Linked DNA regions of Homo sapiens: all the other regions are reported to be linked to region 5. The links are microRNA targets in miRTarBase. Many come from high-throughput screens and were not tested one by one. Region 5 holds a microRNA gene; each other region holds the end of a gene's coding sequence.

What was found. Region 5 holds the annotated microRNA hsa-miR-21-5p (UAGCUUAUCAGACUGAUGUUGA, at 1,756-1,777, shown strand). A microRNA usually pairs through its seed, bases 2 to 8, with sites in the 3' UTR of a target mRNA and lowers its output. Matches are read on the target gene's strand: a 7mer-m8 pairs with bases 2 to 8, a 7mer-A1 pairs with bases 2 to 7 and ends in A, and an 8mer does both.
Region 1: the mRNA of STXBP5 is a reported target of hsa-miR-21-5p. Seed matches in the 3' UTR shown: 7mer-m8 at 2,007-2,013 and 7mer-m8 at 164-170.
Region 2: the mRNA of MGAT4A is a reported target of hsa-miR-21-5p. The part of its 3' UTR that is shown has no 7-base or 8-base seed match.
Region 3: the mRNA of NSD3 is a reported target of hsa-miR-21-5p. Seed matches in the 3' UTR shown: 7mer-m8 at 710-716.
Region 4: miRTarBase lists ATP2B4 as a target of hsa-miR-21-5p. Seed matches in the 3' UTR shown: 8mer at 2,125-2,132.
Region 6: the mRNA of PHTF1 is a reported target of hsa-miR-21-5p. The part of its 3' UTR that is shown has no 7-base or 8-base seed match.
Region 7: miRTarBase lists FILIP1L as a target of hsa-miR-21-5p. The part of its 3' UTR that is shown has no 7-base or 8-base seed match.

The regions. Positions count from the first base shown.
Region 1 is chr6:147,384,233-147,387,316 of GRCh38, reverse strand. STXBP5 (syntaxin binding protein 5) reads right to left here. Exons shown (of 28, transcript NM_001127715.4): 28 at 1-2,603. The coding sequence ends at 2,562. Among named protein-coding and RNA genes, the nearest start is that of SAMD5, 120 kb to the left of the region's middle.
Region 2 is chr2:98,622,778-98,625,861 of GRCh38, forward strand. MGAT4A (alpha-1,3-mannosyl-glycoprotein 4-beta-N-acetylglucosaminyltransferase A) reads right to left here. Exons shown (of 16, transcript NM_012214.3): 15 at 2,946-3,058; 16 at 1-2,815. The coding sequence ends at 2,789. Among named protein-coding and RNA genes, the nearest start is that of UNC50, 16 kb to the left of the region's middle.
Region 3 is chr8:38,272,786-38,275,854 of GRCh38, reverse strand. NSD3 (nuclear receptor binding SET domain protein 3) reads left to right here. Exons shown (of 24, transcript NM_023034.2): 24 at 1-3,069. The coding sequence ends at 214. It also overlaps a transcript of DDHD2 not described here. Among named protein-coding and RNA genes, the nearest start is that of PLPP5, 5.1 kb to the right of the region's middle.
Region 4 is chr1:203,739,274-203,742,357 of GRCh38, reverse strand. It overlaps ATP2B4 (ATPase plasma membrane Ca2+ transporting 4), which reads right to left. Exons shown (of 21, transcript NM_001684.5): 21 at 1-2,812. The coding sequence ends at 2,504. The region is part of intron 1 of LOC102723543 (a long non-coding RNA gene); the gene reads left to right. Among named protein-coding and RNA genes, the nearest start is that of LINC00260, 10 kb to the right of the region's middle.
Region 5 is chr17:59,839,518-59,842,601 of GRCh38, forward strand. MIR21 (microRNA 21) reads left to right here and starts at 1,749; the gene lies at 1,749-1,820. VMP1 (vacuole membrane protein 1) reads left to right here. Exons shown (of 12, transcript NM_030938.5): 12 at 251-2,738. The coding sequence ends at 394. RefSeq lists enhancers at 1-71, 795-1,524 and a silencer at 2,810-3,004.
Region 6 is chr1:113,695,037-113,698,120 of GRCh38, reverse strand. PHTF1 (putative homeodomain transcription factor 1) reads left to right here. Exons shown (of 19, transcript NM_001323043.2): 19 at 396-1,290. The coding sequence ends at 416. Among named protein-coding and RNA genes, the nearest start is that of PHTF1, 63 kb to the left of the region's middle.
Region 7 is chr3:99,827,823-99,830,906 of GRCh38, reverse strand. It overlaps FILIP1L (filamin A interacting protein 1 like), which reads left to right. Exons shown (of 6, transcript NM_001387850.1): 6 at 302-2,096. The coding sequence ends at 493. All of the region lies in intron 1 of CMSS1 (cms1 ribosomal small subunit homolog), which reads right to left. All of the region lies in intron 1 of LOC105374010 (a long non-coding RNA gene), which reads right to left. Among named protein-coding and RNA genes, the nearest start is that of HP09053, 5.5 kb to the right of the region's middle.

The DNA.
Region 1 (3,084 bases), not on the chromosome of region 5:
TAGTCAGTTTTCCTGAAATCGTGGCTTGCTGGTGACTATTACTTTCTGTATTTAAAAAGAAAAAAATAGAGATGTTACCTCTCAAATTACAGTAAATTCCCTGGGTTAGTTATTACTGTAGACTGTCTCTTATCTACAGACAGAATCAAGTATAACTCTGAGAAGCTTATTTCCTACACTCAAACATACTTTAAGCTTTCTAATCCTAACTGAGTCTCTAGTTTGTTGTGCATAATTTGTAGATTAATTTAAAAATTAAATAACTCAAAACACTGATTTAAGATTTTCTTACAAAATCTTGGAAATCCATCTAATGTATATACTTCTATATTTGAAAATAATTACAAGATTAGTTCATTTTGTATACAACAGGAAAAATGACAGTAAAAATGAAGTTAATATACAAATATATTTGTGTTATATAACACAAAATAACACAGCAAATTAAATAATTGCAGCTAATATGACCTTCCACATAGATAGGGAACCAACCAGTATATTAATCTACATAATGCTTTCCCAACTTCTTCAAATCCATAACTGTTGATTTTATTGATGACATTCACAAAACTGTACCTTTAAAATAGGACCTAACAATTCCTGTGACATATCATGGAACTATGGGTTTACTGGATAATAGATAACACAAATTAAGCAATTTATAAACTGCTGAATGTTCAGGCAGCTGACATTAACGAAACAGAAATATGTTATTCATTGGTGCTTTCTATAAATTCAAAAACTTTTGAAAAGGGCTTATTTAAAAAATATTTCTTTTGGCTTGATCAATTATCTCTATCACACACATTTAGTCCCTACCAAATGATATTTAAAGTAAACTTTGATGTAAACTTTTGCATCTAGTAGTGCATGTTATAAAATGTAAACATAAAAGCTTTATTAATGAAAAGTAGAGGAAAATATGCATAACAGACTGTATGAAAAAGTTAAGATGTCCTACATATTCCTTTAATGATCATATAGAATAGAAAAACAACCATCCTGTTTACTATCAATTTGTGCTCTGATTATCTCTTAATGAAAAAACAAAATCATTTAAAGGAATTTTTTATAGAAGACAATATTTAAATTTCATTAACATTAATTTTAATGCTTCCATTTTGCTTTTGCTGGGTTGCTTTAACAACAATCAATAATAATCTCAGATTAGTCTGTATTCTGAGATTGCTTACTTCTAGATCTACTAGGTGGTTTCTTTCCTGCCCGTAATGCTATTCTATGAAACAATCATTCATTGTCCATTGCTGGTCTCAAATTGTATTATATTCCAATACAGAAATAATTTAGTTATCACAGTGTACATATTTTCCTTTCTTTTTGGTTTTTTAAAACCTTGAAAGGATATGTACAGATTTATAGTATATTTCTACACAAAATATTTTGTAGGTCATCAGACTAAACTCTTATATAATTATTGACAACAGATGCTTGTAATTTTCCATGCGATAGCATGTGCACTAACATTTAATTGGCTCATCACCTGAGTGTATTGGAACAGTTAGCAAATAAAGGGCATTTTGAAAAGGGAGCTGAGCATTTTACTGAAATAATGAAAGTTTTTTTTTAAGCAATTTTAATTAAAGAATGCAAAGGTACATTTGGTTAAACATTTTATAAAAATTCAAGCAAAATTTAAAACACAGCCAATTTCAACATTTCTACAAATTTAACCAGCATTATTTTGGTCAAATCCACCTTTAGCTGAATTAATGAGAACAAGGACAAGGGACATTGAAGTATTCTCCTCACCACAATGGAGGTTTTTCTCACTTTCCACACTGCATAGCCACTACATGGAAACTCCCAGAATGATGAGCAATTCAGTCATGCTCTACACTTTTCTTTTCAATGAAAAGTGATGTATCTTCTTGTTTTGCTTTTGACAAAATATGAACTAAATACAAGTCTATAATAACAAGAATCCAAGAGTAGCTCATACACAAGTCAACTATGTGTATGTTTTTATTATTTAAAGCCCACCATTCAGCTTATCTGTCTAAAGAGATGATAACAAACAATTTGTTTCTTTTTCACTAATGATACTGATGACCAGTCAGTGTTAAGAGAGGGAAAGTCCAAGACAGCTGTTTATAATCCAGTCCAATGACACACATATAACTATTTCAACTTCAAGACTTCTGACTTATTGCCTCTGCCCTAAACAGGTCAAACACTGATGGCAGATAAAACGGCACAAACCCTTTTGGCATATGAAAGTTTAATACAGGAATGATCCAGGATTAGTCCCTGCACCAGGTCTCCTCAGCAGCCCCCTTGGTTTCTTCATCTGTCACGTGTGACCTGTTTAATTCCCAAATGGTCAACTCATAACTGGCACACACCATATACTCCATTTCGAGTGCGTGTGAACACTCCTCAGTTAAAGCCACATGACTGAGGTAAAACAGTGCATGACTGTGCTAGGAAAGAACAGTATTCAGTGACGAACATCCCTTTAACGTTAACTTTCCTAAAGAATGTAATAAAAATGGAAAACTTTTTTCCTTCTGGCTGAAGTTGGACTTATTGGATTCTGGTTGTCAGAACTGGTACCACTTCTTATCTTTGTATTTCAACATAATCTAAAGGGGGAAAAAAAAGAAAAACATGCTTTTAAAATGCCGGAACAATAACATTTATAAGTGATTTCTATATTTTTCCAAAACATTATGTCATTCTGCAATATTCTGTAGTGCTACTATATGCTTACTTCAACTTATTAAAAGCAGTAAGAACTATTCTATTTGGAGGAAAAAATACGATATCCATTAAGAACTAGCCTAGAAGTTCCACAGATTTCTTAGAAATGTGACATAATTTGGTGACCTAAGCTAGTAATATAAAAGTAAGATAATTTTTATTTTGTACTATGAATTAAAAATAATGCTTGAAGAACTGGCGAATTAAAGGTTGAAAATGCTACTCCTCCTGCCATCTCAAATTTACTGAGCATCTATTCTGAGCCAGACACTGCATGACACACTTTTCCTACTTGATTTCAGTCATAACCATTCTTGGGCTAGGCACTGTTTTTCTCCCCATTTAATAAATGAAACTGAAGCT
Region 2 (3,084 bases), not on the chromosome of region 5:
CCATACACACAAACAATCAAAAACTAGACAACCGATTGTGTATGCAAGAGTATGGCAACGACAGCAGGGAGAGGGAGTTAAGAGAGAGAAAGGGGGCTGGACATGGTGGCACACACCTATAATCCCAGCACTTTGGGAGGCTGAGGCAGGAGGATTGCTTGAGGCCAGAGATCGAGGCTGCAGTGAGCTATGAGAGCACCACTGCACTCCAGCCTGGGCAACAAAGCGAGACCCTGTCTCAAAAATAATACAAAATGATAAAAAGAGAAAGAGGAGGGCAGGCTGGAATAATTGGTCTCACATCCAGATGCTGACTGGCCACCTGCCACGTGCCTGGCACACACCCTAGGCACGGGTAGATTCATGGGGAGAGAAGCACAAAAAAGTCCTGGAATGATAGGAAAGATTTGGCTAAAAGGAGTCTTGGGAACAAGAATGAGTTTCTTGGGAACAACAGGTGGACCAATGCTGGGAGGGCAAACTGCATGAAAACAGGAAAAAGCTAGCCAGGCAGGCTGTCTTTAAAGAAGTTGTAACAAATCACACCAGGTGCTGCAATAACTTTCTCCTCCCTAGATTTTCAGAGCATGGTCTTTCTTCATGAAACCAGAGTTGGCAACTGAGGAACCAGGGACCCAAGAGTACTCCTAAGCCCACCTGCAGAGATTTTTACTTCTGGTACTCAGTTATCTTTGCAGTAATTTAGTATACCAAGCTGGTGCCAAAATTTTATGACAAAAGGTTATTCCTGTTTTTGAATGAAATTTGCTCATGGGCACTGGGCCAAGGAAATTTGAGAAGAAAAAAATTCAAGAAAGTGAAAAGTAAATTTAAAACATCCTAATAAAAAAATTTCAACTGGCCTTTAACTGACATAAAAATCATTTTTGGCAATGTGATTGACTTTTCAATCAAGAAAAGTAACTAAAAATTATAACAACATGGAGTGATGGAAATAATTGTACTGTATCAGTGTTTCCAAACGTTTGCACTTTGTAACACAGCACAGGAAATGATGCTATTTCATGCTGTTGGTTCAGCACATTGGGTAACTAGATGAAGCTCCTCCAGGCTAGAGGCAGCCAGCTGGAACCTTGCCCCAGCGCTAGGCCCCAGCCAGTGGTCACTCTGAAAGCTCAGCAGAATCCATCTCTGCCCGTCTGCAACCAACCTGCAACCCACTTGTGGCACCCCAGTGTGTCCAAGCAGACTGGCTGGGAACTGATGTTGATACTTCATCTTTTTTTTTTTTTGAGACGGAGTCTAGCTGTGTCGCCCAGGCTGGAGTGCAGTGGTGCGATCTCAGCTCACTGCCAGCTCTGCCTCCTGGGTTCACGCCATTCTCCTGCCTCAGCCTCCCAAGTAGCTGGGATTACAGGCACCTGCCACCACGCCTGGCTAATTTTTTGTATTTTTAGTAGAGACAGGGTTTCACCGTGTTAGCCAGGATGGTCTTGATCTCCTGACCTCGTGATCCGCCCGCCTCGGCCTCCCAAAGTGCTGGGATTACAGGCGTGAGCCACAGCGCCTGGTGATAATTCATCATTTTTTAAAAGTACTTTTATAAAGATCACTGATTGCTGAGACCGGTAATATTCTTTGTTTATAGTAGTAATATCATTTGGAATAGCGTGTTTAAGAGTAATAAATACAGTCTCTTGGACACGGGACTCACTTATCAGTTCATACTACAATAAAATCATTTTGGAAAATATACTACTAATAATATATTTCACCAAAAAACAATATTACAATTTTCTTTAAAATTATACCAATTATGACTCATACAATAGCAACACCTAGAAAACATTTTGTCTGACGTCATAAAATGAGTGCAGATATAAAAGAATCAACAGCAGATAATGCACCTAATTCATGGATTAAAGACAAAGATTAAAAAGGAAAGAAGAGTTTGTCATTTTACATATCAGAGGAAATATAATAAGTTAAGTCTACAATAATCTGGGTTGAATGCATCACACTTACACATTGAAAATTTATCAGACTGACTTTCTGTGGCTATACACCATACACAGTATAGTAAAGTAACCCTCAGGAAGGACATTAGTCTTTAAAATCTTGGCTTTAAGGAATGACAAATGTCTTTGAAAATATTTTGTTCAGTCACTGTGATTATAAAAGTACTTCAATTAAGAAATCCATCTATAATCAATCTTAAATGGCAGTGCATTTGAAAAATGGCATTGGTTTGTAATGTTTGCATTTCCAAAGAAAAATATAGAAAGAACTTAAAAAAGCAAGGAAACTGGTTTTCAAAAAAAGTATCGATTCAAAAATCTACTGCACAAAAATATGTACTTCTTAAGTGTTTCTAATAAATTAATTCCATAACATTTTTATGTATATTTATATATTTATATATATAATCCCTGATAATCTATAAAAGAGGGTCTATAATAGTAAAATAAGTGAACCTCAAAAGTACCCCCTTCATAAAATGTATGTAACATTAGTTTTTCTCAAATTTAAAGAATGTAACAATATGTACAACTCTTATGTATTAGTATAATACCAAAATAGTACAAGTCATATTAACAGGCTGTCATAATTGAAAAATGTTTGAGTCAAGTTAAAATCTGAGGACAGCTTAGTTTCAAACAAATACAATTATTATGGGAGATTCACTTTCCAAGTGGAAATGACAATCGTCTTATCTACAGTAGACTTCACAAGAGGTAGTGTTCAAGTAGAAATAAAAAAAAGATACATGCTTAACTATCTTTAATTAACAAATTCACAGGAAAAAATGTGTTGGTTTCTCAGATGATCAGTTGGTGGCTTTTTTAATATGAATCTGAAATACAAAATCATAAAAGGTATGATAAAGCTGTTAATTCTCAATTCCAAAAAGGCCTTAAATACAAAATAAAAACATAATAAAAATGTAGTTTCTAAGTTGTTTCACTGATTTGATATATGCTTACCTCATTAAGAATGGCCCAAACAGCAGAATTCTGAATAACTGAAAGTCGAAAGGCTGAAATGGGATTGAGACTTGGATCCACCATTCCTTCTGCAACACCATTCTCAAATTTTCCTTCAAAATAAAAATCAATACTTGTT
Region 3 (3,069 bases), not on the chromosome of region 5:
CGATGAGTGCAGCAGTGCAGCTGTTTCCTTCTGTGAATTCTGTCCACATTCATTTTGTAAAGATCATGAAAAGGGGGCCCTGGTTCCCTCTGCACTGGAAGGCCGCCTCTGCTGCTCGGAACATGACCCCATGGCTCCTGTGTCACCAGAATACTGGAGCAAGATAAAATGTAAATGGGAATCACAAGATCATGGAGAAGAAGTAAAAGAATAAATGTGTGGTGTCCCCTCCTTTCTATTTAAGTGAAAAAAGCAAATAGATCATGCATTTAAAAAGAAGAGACTGCTACAGTGCATACAGCCTTTGCCATCGGAACTGCCTTATTAAAGCAAAAATGGGAAACCAGTTCATGCAGGCAGAAGCAGTTGGTGGTGTCTGGTTTTTGTTTGATTTGGTTGGTTTGGGATTCTTTTGTGGAGGGTTAAATTCCCTTGGTCTTTTCTTGCCTTTTATTGTGCTTCAGTGCCATTGCAGCTTGAAAAAGAAATGTTTTTGCTGTTAAAATAAGAACAAAGAGAAAAGTAAGTTTTGTTAATGAGATAAATTTAAAGTCTAAGATGTGTTCCTTGGTTGTATAAAGCAAAAGTAGCCATCATTCCTTTATTTATTTTCATTTTTAGGAATTTCAAGAAGTGTAGTTCAATAGTCTAATCAAGTGTGTGTGTGTTTTAAGTAGGAATCTGAGAAAGCCCTCTAGGAAAGGGTATGATAAGCTTTATATACCTCTTTACTGAGCAGTAGGTAGGCTCACTTCTCTTTCCCTTCAAAATGCTTTTCATAGGCTTAGAGAAGGGCTCTATGGAAGTATTAAATCTGGCCTCTTGAAAACAATGCCTCGGTGGATTTTACCTCTGTGGTCTTAAACAAGGTGGGCTTTGTACTATGGTAACTTTACCTAGAAGGGTATATGGTGTGTTTCCTTGGTGGAAGGAAAAAAAGGAATGGATGTGCTCACTGATTTTTAAAACGTTTTCCATTGACATGGATGGTTTGGGTTTTGGATGAAGTGCGTTTCTGTGGATATGAAGCATAGTTGGAATGGTCACTCCTATTTTCCTGACACTGATTAAGGCAGCTAAAGGGGGATGAAGGCATAAACCAAAATTTGGATCATATAAGCACCATTTTCTGTCCAATTTTATTGTAGACCCTGGTCTTAATTGGAGAGAATTACAGGCATTTTATTTTTTGTCTCTGTTTTCCTCTCCTACTCAAACATTTCTTTTGTCATCTGACCATTCAGTCATGTTTCCTGGTAAAACCACACAAGTGAGTTTGAATTGTATTTGAATAGATCTTTTTGGTTGAGTTCCTAATTTGGGGGGTGAAAGTAGTAGGGGCATCCCCAGGTTACATGTAAAGAATTTCTATTATTATCCAGTACTTAAGATTGCTCCCATTGAGTAAGGGGAAGAACTTCTACTTTTACAGGGTGCATAAGAGCCACACAAACACACTTCATCTTAGGAAGCACTTGGAGAAAACTCCCAAGAAAGTCAGTGTTAGCAAAAATGGTTGATGGTGATGCTTGACTCTTATAGATGCGAGTATACCAAGATGTCTGCTCACCAAACTCACTTGCTTTTAATGCTTAGGAATATGTATATTCCAGTATTCCTTGTATGAAAATAATTAGTAATGTCAGACATTGTTGTAACACTGTACTAAGTAGAAGTCTAGGGTTAGCTTGAATGAATGTTAACTTTCTCTGTGAATTTTGACTGCTTACAATTGCTGGTACCTGGTAGCATTTATTTTCCCTCAAGTACCTAGTAACCTTATGAAGGTAGGGAGGGTAGATGCTCTACCACATTCCTTCAGCTGTATTGAGTGTTCCATTTGCTTATCAATTTAGAGCTCTTCTATGGAAAGAGGGTGAAAATCTGTTTTGTGCCTCTTTTTTTTGTATGTAAATGTGCAATTATACTGGATTTTCTCTTGTAAAAAACACTACAATTCTTTTACTGAAGCTCCTAAACTGCCATTTGCCTGACTCCAGCAATTAATTCTGCGGTGACTCATTGGGCTTCCAGTACTTCTGTTGATTAGATATGGTCCCAAAAGAAAGAGCAAAATGGAAAATGCGATCCATGTCACCAAATATAATTGCTACAAGTAACATGAAATACAGCTCACCAAAACACTAAACTTTGCTCTTGAGCAATTATATAGTTTGATGTCCTTTTAAAAAATAAGAAAAGCTAGGTTTTATCATACTAAAATTTTATTTTGTATATGATGTTTGGTTTTTTAAACTTACTAACATAAGGATTTCCTTTAATATTCCAAATACAGTTCTTGAAACAGTATCCAACATGAAATCTTATCTCCTTGCTTTTAGACTTAGTGCTATTTACTATCTAAAGACTTTTCTATGGTAAGCCAGGGTACATCCTATATACTACAGATACCTTAGGTTTCAGTATTTTTATGCAGCTTCTTCATTGTGTCACATTTTGTTTTCATATCTGTAACAGAGCTCTGCTGAAATTAAAAAAAAATTATGATTAATAGGATTGTTTCACCATTTCAGAAATCAGAGTAGAAAACAAAATAGCTGCCAGGTGCAGTGGCTCACACCTGTAATCCCAGCACTTTGGGAGGCCGAGGTGGGCAGATCATGAGGTCAGGAGTTTGAGACCAGCCTGACCAACATGGTGAAACCCTGTCTCTGCTAAAAATACAAAAAGGAGCCGGGCATGGTGGCACATACCTGTAGTCCCAGTTTCTCAGGAGGCAGAGGTTGCAGTGAGCCAAGATCACATCACTGCACTCCAGCCTGGGTGACAGAGCGAGACTCCATCTCAAAAAAAAAAGGTAACCATAGTTCTGAAGTCTTTGGCCATGAATGTTCTTTAATGGTCTAAAAAGCGGTTTTAGTCATGCTGGTGCCAAGGAGTTCTCCTCACACCTCCATAGCGTCAATGTTGACCTATTTGATATATTTTTAAGTTGCAGATTATAGATGCAGAAAGAGAAAATTGTCCTTTATGTGTGCATGAGTATACATGCACTGTGCCTGTGATACACCAATGAAATATTCCAAAAGACATTGCTCACTCATAGTC
Region 4 (3,084 bases), not on the chromosome of region 5:
ACAAAATTTATATTAAAAAAGTCTAGAACCCAACAATTTTTCTTCCCTAAGTATAAAGATGGCTGTTTGCAGAAAGAAAGTATGGTGTATTGGTTTTAAAACCAATTACAAATATACTAAGTCACCTGTCATGCCAAACAGCTGGTTATGTGCTCCCTTCCACAGGGCTACATGACGGCACTTTATTTTAAATCCTTTAAACAAAATACATATGGCTGACCCAAAAATATCAGTTTCTGATCTAAAGAAAACTATAATTTTTGCATATATTTCTATATTTTCTCTCCTATTATGGAAACTAGAACACAAGAAAAAAAACCATTGACTTTTAAAAAGTAGACACAAGCCCTCAAGGGTAACCTGTCAGGCACCATGAGAACCTTTTGTGAACAGGAATGGTAAAATAGCCTTCAAAGCTCGTTATTGGCTTGCTATTTAAAATGATCTGAGGTAATACAAGATTTGATAGAATTAAATCTTCTAAAATAGTTGATGAATATATATGTGAAACCTAACACCTTGGGTGAGCTGTTTTTTTCCCCTATGAGTATTTAAGACACAAAAAAGAATTATTGAAGCATGTACGTTTTACAAAACCAAAATCAAATTTGCTTTCCTATTTCCTACGATGATGGATTATGTAGTCATGGGGATATGTAGGGGACATTGTTTCTTTATGTTTCCTACTGTGGACAGCTCAGGTGAAAGGGGTGAGGGAGGACAGATCCAGAAGAAAAGGCTAGGTGGATCAGGTCATCTTCCTCTCACATGGGAATTTGGCCGTTCATACATCCCCTCTTCTTGACTCTCATCACTCTAGAAAGGGGGGTGGGCTTCATTTATCTAATGGGAGGTGAGAGTCAGGGACATGAACTGGCCCCTACACAGAAGTCAACACCAGCAGGGATACAAATGGAGCTCCTGCAAACGTGGCTCCACGTTGTCCCAGTAAGGAACACTTAAAAAATCTCCTAGCAAAGTCCCCAACTCCTGAGAGGCAGATGGGAAGGGGATGCTTTGGGCAGTATTCAGGGGAAAAAAAGGCACAGGGCTTTACTGGGCAGCAGCTGGAGCATGTGGCTGAAGCGGGGCTGGAGGAAGGGGGAGTGTGCCGGGTGCGGGGGGTCTTTTTCTCGTTTAAGTTGGCAAAATGTCACAGGGGCCTCCCACTTTGGATACATATTTTCAAAATCAGAATATTTGAGAAAGGCTGGGACCTTCTCAGAGACTGGAAAAGTTGTGACACGTGGCAAAAATTAGAATCAGAAACTGGAGAGAATGTCGAAGCTGGTCCCCAGGCACCTAAGCTCAAGGTTTCTGGCCTCTGCAGGAAGGTTTTCTCAGATCATGCTAGAATGGCTCTTTGGCCTCTCCCAAGGCTTCTGAACACTCATTCCCCACCAGTCAGGTCCTGCCCTGGAGAGCCTTGGCAGATGGCTTTGAAAGCAGTGGTCACCCCAAAGAGGAGCCCACAAAAGTCTGCTTTGATGGTCTGTCTTGTCCTAGATTTGGCAGCGTCTGGTCCTCAATATCCAAGCCCAGTAAGGGGGCAGGGTCATACCCAGTTCATTCTTTTGCCACCACTTTAGGAATAAGAGAAAGCTCAGGCTTTCAGGTAAAAACTGTATACCACACATATGCAACCTTCATGGGCAAGGCTGATCTCCCTGGCACTTAAGAACCACATACACTTTACAAGATGGCAATTTAAAAGCAGAAGGTAACCTGGCAACAACAGAGAAATATTCTTACCAGCACTTAATTGCTTCAAAAGGACCCTTTTAACAAAGAAACTGGTTGGATTCTGGAACTAAATCAAGGGTTCTTTTGGGCCAAAAGGGAGAAGGATCTAAGTTTACACAATTCATCCATATCCTTTCCATTTTCTTAATCATCATAAAAAAAAAAAAAAAAAAGGAAAGGAAGGGAAGACAAAAGACAAAGAACTTTGGAGAGGTTTGAATGAAAGGGCAGAAAGAGTTAGAGGCCTACAGGCCTTTAGGTGTAAGTTTTCAAAGTGGGAAAAATTGAAAAACAATCACACTACTGGCGGATTTTATACATTCCATCTCTACCGCAACATATTTCACTTGGGGATATTTGTCTCCCTCTGAACCCTCAACTTAGCTTATAAATGGCACAGACTTGTAGGACAAAATCCAGAATTCAGGAGAGGAACATCGGGGAGAATGTGGGGTGGGGTGATGCCAAGAGGATTGTCATCATTTCTTTAAAAATGACAAGTGACTACCAAGGAGTAGATTCTACCATGACCTGAATGGGGTTTGACTGGGTCCCGCTACAAACCCCAAGTCAAGCTTAAGTTGAAATCCTTGTAAGTCTGTGCTCTTGCCTCTTCATGGTCAGGTAGAGGTTCACTTCACACACACTGCTGTTAACACAGCAGCTGACGTGACAATGAAAAGTCCCATCATCACCTCATAGATGGGATAGACGAAAATGGAAATAGGTAAAATAGGGATGAGAGTCAGAGAAAGAAAATTCAAACTGATGTCTCTAGGCTCTGTAGAGAGCTGTCCGACTGGGGGAGCTGCACTTGGTTGCAATCCACCGCATTGTTGTTTGTATTGGCATATGGAGTGACCTCACCATCCAACAGGAGCACCCTAGTCCCAAACTTAGAAGCCTTGTCAGGATTTTCCTCCTCTTCCTCATCCAGGAGTGGTGTTCGTGGCAACTCCTCCTCTATGGCGAATTCAGGGTGGGTCATGAAGCTGTGGATGGACTTTTGGTTGTAGGGTTTCTGAATGCTTTCGTGGAGGGAACTATGGAACGCTTTGACCACTTTGATCTATACCAGGGGAAGGAAAAGGAGGATGAGAAAATAGAGAGGTGAGAATTGGCCGGCAGAACAAGGAGATGGTGGATTTAGGAGAGAAACAAAACCCAGACTATAAAACATGACTGCTCAGCATCAAAACCAAACACACATCAGAAGAGATCATGGGGCACTAGAAACATCACATGGCTCAACTTTCAAGCAGTGGGGTGGGCTGGGGTGAGTGACGGCAACTAGGACGTTTTGAAAGCTGCATTAAAAAAAGTAGAAAACCCAAAGCAACG
Region 5 (3,084 bases):
AACCTCACACTCATCCCATTCTAAACTATGTGATTCAACACTGATTTTACATCCAACAAAGTGAAATCTTGATAGTTGGGTGTAAAAAGGAGAGTAATGGAGATTTCAGAGTAGTTGGGGTTGCTTACTTTTCATTTTTAATTCTTTAGGTTTTGTAAGTTACACACTTCAAGCATTATAGATGATCCTCTTTTTACTACTGAACTAATGAAGCCTTTTTCATTGCATTGTTCTGCATTTATTTCTACAGGGAGAAAACTGGTTGTCCTGGATGTTTGAAAAGTTGGTCGTTGTCATGGTGTGTTACTTCATCCTATCTATCATTAACTCCATGGCACAAAGTTATGCCAAACGAATCCAGCAGCGGTTGAACTCAGAGGAGAAAACTAAATAAGTAGAGAAAGTTTTAAACTGCAGAAATTGGAGTGGATGGGTTCTGCCTTAAATTGGGAGGACTCCAAGCCGGGAAGGAAAATTCCCTTTTCCAACCTGTATCAATTTTTACAACTTTTTTCCTGAAAGCAGTTTAGTCCATACTTTGCACTGACATACTTTTTCCTTCTGTGCTAAGGTAAGGTATCCACCCTCGATGCAATCCACCTTGTGTTTTCTTAGGGTGGAATGTGATGTTCAGCAGCAAACTTGCAACAGACTGGCCTTCTGTTTGTTACTTTCAAAAGGCCCACATGATACAATTAGAGAATTCCCACCGCACAAAAAAAGTTCCTAAGTATGTTAAATATGTCAAGCTTTTTAGGCTTGTCACAAATGATTGCTTTGTTTTCCTAAGTCATCAAAATGTATATAAATTATCTAGATTGGATAACAGTCTTGCATGTTTATCATGTTACAATTTAATATTCCATCCTGCCCAACCCTTCCTCTCCCATCCTCAAAAAAGGGCCATTTTATGATGCATTGCACACCCTCTGGGGAAATTGATCTTTAAATTTTGAGACAGTATAAGGAAAATCTGGTTGGTGTCTTACAAGTGAGCTGACACCATTTTTTATTCTGTGTATTTAGAATGAAGTCTTGAAAAAAACTTTATAAAGACATCTTTAATCATTCCAAAATTGTGTCCGTTTTCTTGAGCGTTTTGATTTTTTACTTTTAGCTTATACCAGCTGAATGGCAGCCTTGCCTAATCCACCTACAACAAGAATTTCTTAAGCTTTCTTTTATTTGCATGAGAGAGCCACTACCAAGGCATGTTTTGTTATGCTGAAACTGGGCTGCTGCATACTGCTAAATGGCACCTCTGGGATTGGCCTACCTGGGGATTTCTTGGTTTGTGAAAACAGGAGAGGAGAAATATCTCATACAAGTGAAAGGATACTGGAGAGAGAAATTACCCATTTCTAAAAAAAAACCACACTCTGTCGTATCTGTGTTAATGTTTTCTAGCATGTACTCTGGTTTCAACAGACACAAATTTATATGTTAACCCAGTTTTCTTGCCGTTCTGTAAGTGTTTTATTCTTAGTGTGATTTTTTTCCATTGGGATGTTTTTGATTGAACTTGTTCATTTTGTTTTGCTTGGGAGGAAAATAAACAATTTTACTTTTTTCCTTTAGGAGCATTATGAGCATTATGTCAGAATAGAATAGAATTGGGGTTCGATCTTAACAGGCCAGAAATGCCTGGGTTTTTTTGGTTTGTTTTTGTTTTTGTTTTTTTATCAAATCCTGCCTGACTGTCTGCTTGTTTTGCCTACCATCGTGACATCTCCATGGCTGTACCACCTTGTCGGGTAGCTTATCAGACTGATGTTGACTGTTGAATCTCATGGCAACACCAGTCGATGGGCTGTCTGACATTTTGGTATCTTTCATCTGACCATCCATATCCAATGTTCTCATTTAAACATTACCCAGCATCATTGTTTATAATCAGAAACTCTGGTCCTTCTGTCTGGTGGCACTTAGAGTCTTTTGTGCCATAATGCAGCAGTATGGAGGGAGGATTTTATGGAGAAATGGGGATAGTCTTCATGACCACAAATAAATAAAGGAAAACTAAGCTGCATTGTGGGTTTTGAAAAGGTTATTATACTTCTTAACAATTCTTTTTTTCAGGGACTTTTCTAGCTGTATGACTGTTACTTGACCTTCTTTGAAAAGCATTCCCAAAATGCTCTATTTTAGATAGATTAACATTAACCAACATAATTTTTTTTAGATCGAGTCAGCATAAATTTCTAAGTCAGCCTCTAGTCGTGGTTCATCTCTTTCACCTGCATTTTATTTGGTGTTTGTCTGAAGAAAGGAAAGAGGAAAGCAAATACGAATTGTACTATTTGTACCAAATCTTTGGGATTCATTGGCAAATAATTTCAGTGTGGTGTATTATTAAATAGAAAAAAAAAATTTTGTTTCCTAGGTTGAAGGTCTAATTGATACGTTTGACTTATGATGACCATTTATGCACTTTCAAATGAATTTGCTTTCAAAATAAATGAAGAGCAGCTGTCCTTCTTTCCTCTTTTAAGTGTTCAGCTGTGGCATGCTCAGAGGTTCCTGCTGGATTCCAGCTGGAGCGGTGTGATACCCTTCTTTTTCAGCTGTTCGTGCCTTCCTTTCTTGTATCCACCAAAGTGGAGACAAATACATGATCTCAAAGATACACAGTACCTACTTAATTCCAGCTGATGGGAGACCAAAGAATTTGCAAGTGGATGGTTTGGTATCACTGTAAATAAAAAGAGGGCCTGGGAATTCTTGCGATTCCATCTCTACTTTGTATAAGTCTCATTTTGTGCCTTACACATCTGCAGTATTTATCATGTTCCAACTTGGTGACTGTCAGGCAGTGCAATACATCAGCAGTTTATCACCGAAGAGCTGAGGAATACCTCCCTTAAAACAGACAATGTCGGCCGGGCGCGGTGGCTCACACCTGTAATCCCAGCACTTTGGGAGGCCAAGGCGGGCAGATCACCTGAGGTCAGGAGTTTGAGACCAGCCTGGCCAACATGGCGAAACCCCATCTCTACTAAAAATATAAAAAATTAGCCGGGCGTGGTGGTGCACGCCTGTAATCCCAGCTATTCAGGAGGCTGAGGCAGGAGAATCCCTTGAACG
Region 6 (3,084 bases), not on the chromosome of region 5:
AATAGGCATTTTGATTGGTGGTCCACAGGCTTTTCAGCTTCAGTTTTCTCATTTTACACAAATATAACAGACAGTGCTCTTGAATGGAACAAAAAAAATCAAGTTTGAATTTCATATCAGTTTAATAGCCTGAGCTGGGTAATGGTCTTACTCTGATCCTGGGGAATGTACAGATGTAGAATGAATGAAAACCAGTACATGAACTGCATTGTATTATTTTTGATCCTGGAAGTTTTAAATGTTTTTTCTCTATGATGTTCTATGGTTGCTATTGCCAGACTTGATACATTTTCTTCTTTTATAAAGGATTCTTAGTTTATAGTCATGTAAGTGTACCTATAAATCCCACCTGGTTTTCCTAGAACTAACTTATTTTGGTGATTTTGTTCTCTTAGCTGTGGAAAATTAAATCATAAGCTGAGTAAATGCCTGGACTCTCCCCTGGCTGGTATCAAAACTTACCTATCAAGGAAAGTGATGACTGCAGAAACCAGTGAGATACCCACCTGCTTGTTCACATGCACAGGTGCTCTCAGCTCTGCCAAAGCGAATGAATGGTGTTTCCGGAGGAGCAAGTCCTTTTCCAACTGGGTGTGCATGCTAAAAACCTGTATTTTCATGCTTTTCAAACAACATGAATAGTCAGCTGACTAAAGACTGTGTGTGTTGTGGTAACACAAAGACAATTTTGTAAGTTTGCGCTTCAGTACTGTGACAGTTATGTTTACTGGACATAGTCTTTTGGGCAACTATGATAGATGCCCAAAGCATGAAGCAAATATCTTTTATTGGAAATATGCAAATTCAATACTTTTCCATTATAGTCTATAGAACTGGAGATTTCATTTCTCTATCAAAGAGAGATCAAGCGAACTATTTTAGGTTAAATCCGAATAAAAGAACTTTACTGGAGACTTTCAGTTTCTAGGTTTTCTTTGTTGTTGAAGGAAGAAAATTAACTTTTAAACTGTGAGTTTCTGTTAAACTGTGGAGAAATGTTTTGTTCGTTTACGATTTTGGGTTAATAACTGTATAGTTGTTGGCAAACGATGCATGCATACAATATGCCATGTAATTCAGCATGAAAAATTTAAGTATATGCCTACTCATCCATTTCCATCATACAACATGGTTTCCACGTTCTATGTGGAAGCCATGGAAGCATTGTTTCCATATAGATCATCTGAGTTGTGGTTCCTAACACAGTGCTATGTGTCCTATCACAAGCATCATTGATAGTTTATCAGTTGTGCAACTTAATGTATTAAACCCTCCGTACATTTTCAGGTCCTCAGTGTCTATAATCGGCCATGCCATGCCTCTGATGATACAGGTTCTGTAATGCAGCATCCTGTTATACACATGCATATACATATGTTAATGAAAGCTCTAATAGTCTACTTATAATTCTTGCTCATTAAGTTACCTGCTTTGAAGAATCTCTCTTTTTTTTTTTTTTTTTTTTTTTTTTGAGGCAGAGTCTCACTTTGTTGCCCAGGCTAGAGTGCAGTGGCACCATCTTGGCTCACTGCAACCTCTGCCTCCTGGGTTCAAGTGATTCTCCTGCCTCAGCCTCCCGAGTAGCTGGGATTACAGGTGCCCGCCACCACACCTGGCTAATTTGCAAGAATCTCTTTGAGGCAAATTGAAAGCTTGAACATTTTAATGATAAGGTTTTGTGAAGTTTTAAATAAACATAATTTAGAAACTTGGTTATTACATGTAAAGCATGTATTCATTTAAAATCAGAGGATCAGTTGCACATTTTCTAATAAGCAGGAATATTTGTGAGGTTTAGAGGTGGATCTCTGAAGAGTCCAGGGATTGAGGTCAGACCTTTCTGGGTTCAAATCTTTGGCCCTGCCACATATTAGCTCTTTGTATATCAATTTTCTCACTTGTTAACCCATTTATGGGGATAATAACTACAAGTGGGGATAATAACTACATAATAAGGTTGTTAAGATTAAATGAGGTTGTCATGTAAGGTACTTGCACAGTGTAAAGTATTTAGTACTCAGCAAATCTACAATAAATGTGTTACTACTATTTAAAGTCCTTAAAAAAAATCTCACTGATAATTCCTAACTGTGAAGATAGAAACATGGAAAGCAAGGTTGCTGAACTAGAAGTTGATTACCAAAAATATGCAGCCTTTTATACATGAGTTATAATTTTTTAAATGGCAAAACTCCATTATAGTGATAAACCTTTAGAAGGCAGTGTTCTGTAGAAGCACTTCAGCATCTCAACAGATGGTTCATAGAAACCATGCTTTTACTGTTTCCATAGGGAACAGTAGCAGTGATCTCAAATCCAAAATTGAGCTCACTGCAGATTTCAAATGAAAACTGATGCCTTCATCTTTTTCTTCTACAAAAATGCTGTTCTATTTTTATGTACAACTTTTACACAGTTAATTCTTAGTTTAAAAGCAGTGTTTAGAGTATATTAATTCAATTGTGTGGATTGCTTCAGTTGTGGTTTTGATGGTGTATATTGGTTTAAATTATTTTTCAGGTGGGTAAAATTATGTGTAAGTATAGTTAATCATATCAGAAACTTAGGAATGATTCTTGACTCATTTTTCTTCCTCATACCTCACATCCAATCAATCACTGAGTCTTTGAATAATTATCTTCTAGATATCTTTCTCATCAGTCCACTCTTCTTCCTCCCCACTGCCACTGCTCTTATTTAAGTCAGCATCCTTTGTTTTTTGAGCAAGTTTCTGCTATCTCTGCTCTTATGTATGCTTGATTCCTCTTTCCCCCACACCTAACCCACTCATCTCAAAAATGTAATATGTCTTTTCTGAAATGTAAGTCTCATCATTTAGAATCCATCAGTGGCTTACTAGCACTTTGAAGATAAAAATCCAAAATCCTTTTAGCAAGGTGTGTAGGCCTACCCTATTGAGAAAGATTTTAAATCTTTATGTTTGAAAGATACTTTTGCTGGGTATAAAATTCTAGGTTTAAAGATGTGGTTGTGCTGTTACCTCCTGGGTTGTTGCATTGTTTCTGACAAGAAGTCTACAGTCACTCTAATCTTTGCTCCTCTGTATGTTAAGTGTCTTTTTTC
Region 7 (3,084 bases), not on the chromosome of region 5:
GAGATTAATTTGGGACACTACTCTTGTATATGTCCTACTACACCGTGATTGCCAAATATCTATTCATCTCTGTATCTACCACTATCTCTATCAAGAACTGTGCACACAGCACACATTCAACACACACCAGATTACTTTACTGACATTCTTTTCTTCAACCTGACGATCTTTGATCTGATACATCCCCAGAAACTGGTGCTTTCAAAGCCAAATCCTCCAAACTGACTCCATGTCCTAAACAATTTCTACTTCTCCACCAACTGTACCATTAATTACCTTTTGTTCTCTTGTTTAATTCAAGATCAAGGAGGTATGCAAGCAGAGAATCCCAGCACGGATCCCTAAACCGAAATCTACAGGCATCACCAAGATTTCCACTAAAGCCCCCACAGTGCCTATGGATAAGCCTATTTACCAAAATGGCTGTGGGAAGCTACACATCGTGAGAACTGTCACCTCCAACACCTTCCTCCACGTGGGAGGGAGAAGGTAACTCATACCAATGCACTGCCTGGATACATTCATCTACAGAAATATGTGGAAAGCTAAAATTACCACTATGAAAGGCCAAAGGACCATCTCTCCAGGAAATGGTGAAGCAGCTTTGTGGACCTGATGAAGATCATCCCCCAAAAAGCAGCACGTCTACAATTATTTTACTTCTATATGTGTATATGCACACACAAACACTCGCAGGCCTAGACCCACACCCAAATCTACCCATTTCCTCATCCGACATATAATCTAACCCAAAGATGAACTATCTAGAATCAGCCTGGGATAGGACTGAATTCACTAGAACAGTTCAAGAGTTTTCTGGTGAAAACAGAAGTAATTCTTCATTCTACAGAACTTTGCTGATTAATCATATTTTGCTAAGAAAAGGTGATAGCAAAAATTCCTAATCTGAGTCAAGAAAATCAGATTATTTCCATCAAGATGACAGGACAATTAAAATCACACTTTAAGGTCTAAAACTATGATTTCTTTATGACCAGGAGGGAAAAAGCAAAGTGATAATTCTTAAAGGAGGAAAAGCATAACAAAAGTGAATAACAGCCGAATATATCCTTTGTGCAGAATACCTGACAATCACTGGTGTAGTAAGCATACCTGACCACTGGCACTTAGTCTCAGTAACATTGAGATATTTTAGGGAGACATGAATCAATATTCCAGGTGCTTGAAAAAATACAGAATTTATCATCTCACAGGACATTGTTTATTCATATCTCTTCTCTGAATAAACACTATCGAAAATCAGTTGATTCAACAAAAGCTTGGGGTTAGGAGACTCAAATTCCAATCCTAGATTTTCATTCATGTGACAACGAGCTTTGCATTCATCAATCTAAGCCTTGAGTTTCCACATGTAAAACAGGAAAGTGAAATAATTCCTCAGGTCCCTTCCAGTTCTGATAACCTATGAATATGCCCAACTATTAATACAAAATGTTGAATTCAAACAGTCATCTATAAGGGTAGACACAGTCCCCTGGCAGAAAGCTAAAGCAATTCTTTACATCACACTGAAAACTCTCTCATTGAATTGAGAGAAAGGTGTGCCTGTAATTCAGTGTGGACAGAGTAATACAGGACATTTTAAGACAAGGCATGTTTGACACAAAAGGCAGTTCAAAAAACATTTCAAAAAGCTTCAATCGAGGGGGGAAAAAAATCAATGGAACGACACTAAACATTTTTTGTGATCCTTCACTAAAAACTGGAAGCATGACCCTGGAAGAAATCCTCATGGTTAAGGACTGCTTTAGCCAGCTGCCCTGGGTTGGAGCCAGCAGAGCAAGAGTAAAGGAACTCCCATTCCCCATACTTATCTAACTAAGTCCACCTCATTGCACTAATGCCACTGTACAAACACCCCCAGGCCCCTGCAATTTCAAGGAGGAGAAGGAGCTAGAGGCCTGGGCAGCATTGAAAGGGATGATGGGCAGCATTGAGAGGGATGATGGGCAGCATTGAGAGGGATGATAGGCAGCATTGAGAGGGATGATGGGCAGCAGTCCCAGCAGGCAAGTGGCAGAGGGCAGTAGGGGGAGGTCAAGTGAATTAAAAGCCTGAAATGGAAAAGTCGAAGTGAAAGGAAAGCAGGAAGAGAATAGTAGAAGGGGATGGACTACAAAAGAAGGTGAAGACTGGGCATGGTGGCTCACGCCAGTAACCCCAGCACTTTGGGAGGCTGAGGTGAGAGGATTTCTTGAGGCCAGGAGCTCAAGACCAGTCTGGGCAACTTGGCAAGACCTTGTCTCTCCGAAAAGAAAAAAAAAAAAAAAAGCCAGGTGTGGTGGTGCACACCTGTAGTCCTAGCTAATTAGGAGGAAGAGGCAAGAGGACTGTTTGAGCCCAGAAGTCCGAGGCTGCAGTGAGCATGATCACACCACTGCACTCCAGACTGACTGACAGAGCAAGACCTTGTTTGTGGGGAAAAAAAAAAAAAAGGGTGCAGTGATGAAGCTCTAACATCAAAAAAAAAAAAATACACGTATGTACAGAGTGCTTAGTATTGTGCCTCACATAGAGCAGGTATTTGATAAATCTAGAGTGAATAGAGAATGAGTAAATGAAGAAGAGAAGGCCATTCAGTCAAGACATTTTCTCACTTGAGAAAACATGCTAAGAGATAGCAATGGTATGACAGGGTTAGGAAAAGTAGTTATGCCCAGGTGACATTCAACATTGGTAATTATGCTAATAGAAAAAAAACCCATTGGAATCCCTTAGTGAAAACCAAACAGGTTGAAAAGAAGCATAAAACAGGAAAAACAACATGCACTAACAATAGTCCCAGAAAAACAAAATACCTTGGGAAAAATTTTACTCTGAAATGAAGCACAAAATACGTTGTATGTTGAAGCTTTCAAAATTGTTTTCTCCCATGTCAGGAGACTTCCTAAAGTACATTTTTATCCAAGCTAGCATAAGTTTAAGAGGAAGCACAAAAAGAGGGACAAGATAGTATACAAAGTACTAAAAAATTTAGGTAGAAGCCAGGCACGGTGGCTCACGCCTGTAATCCCAGCACTTTGGGAGTCCGAGGCGGTGGATCACCTGAGGTTGGGAGTTCGA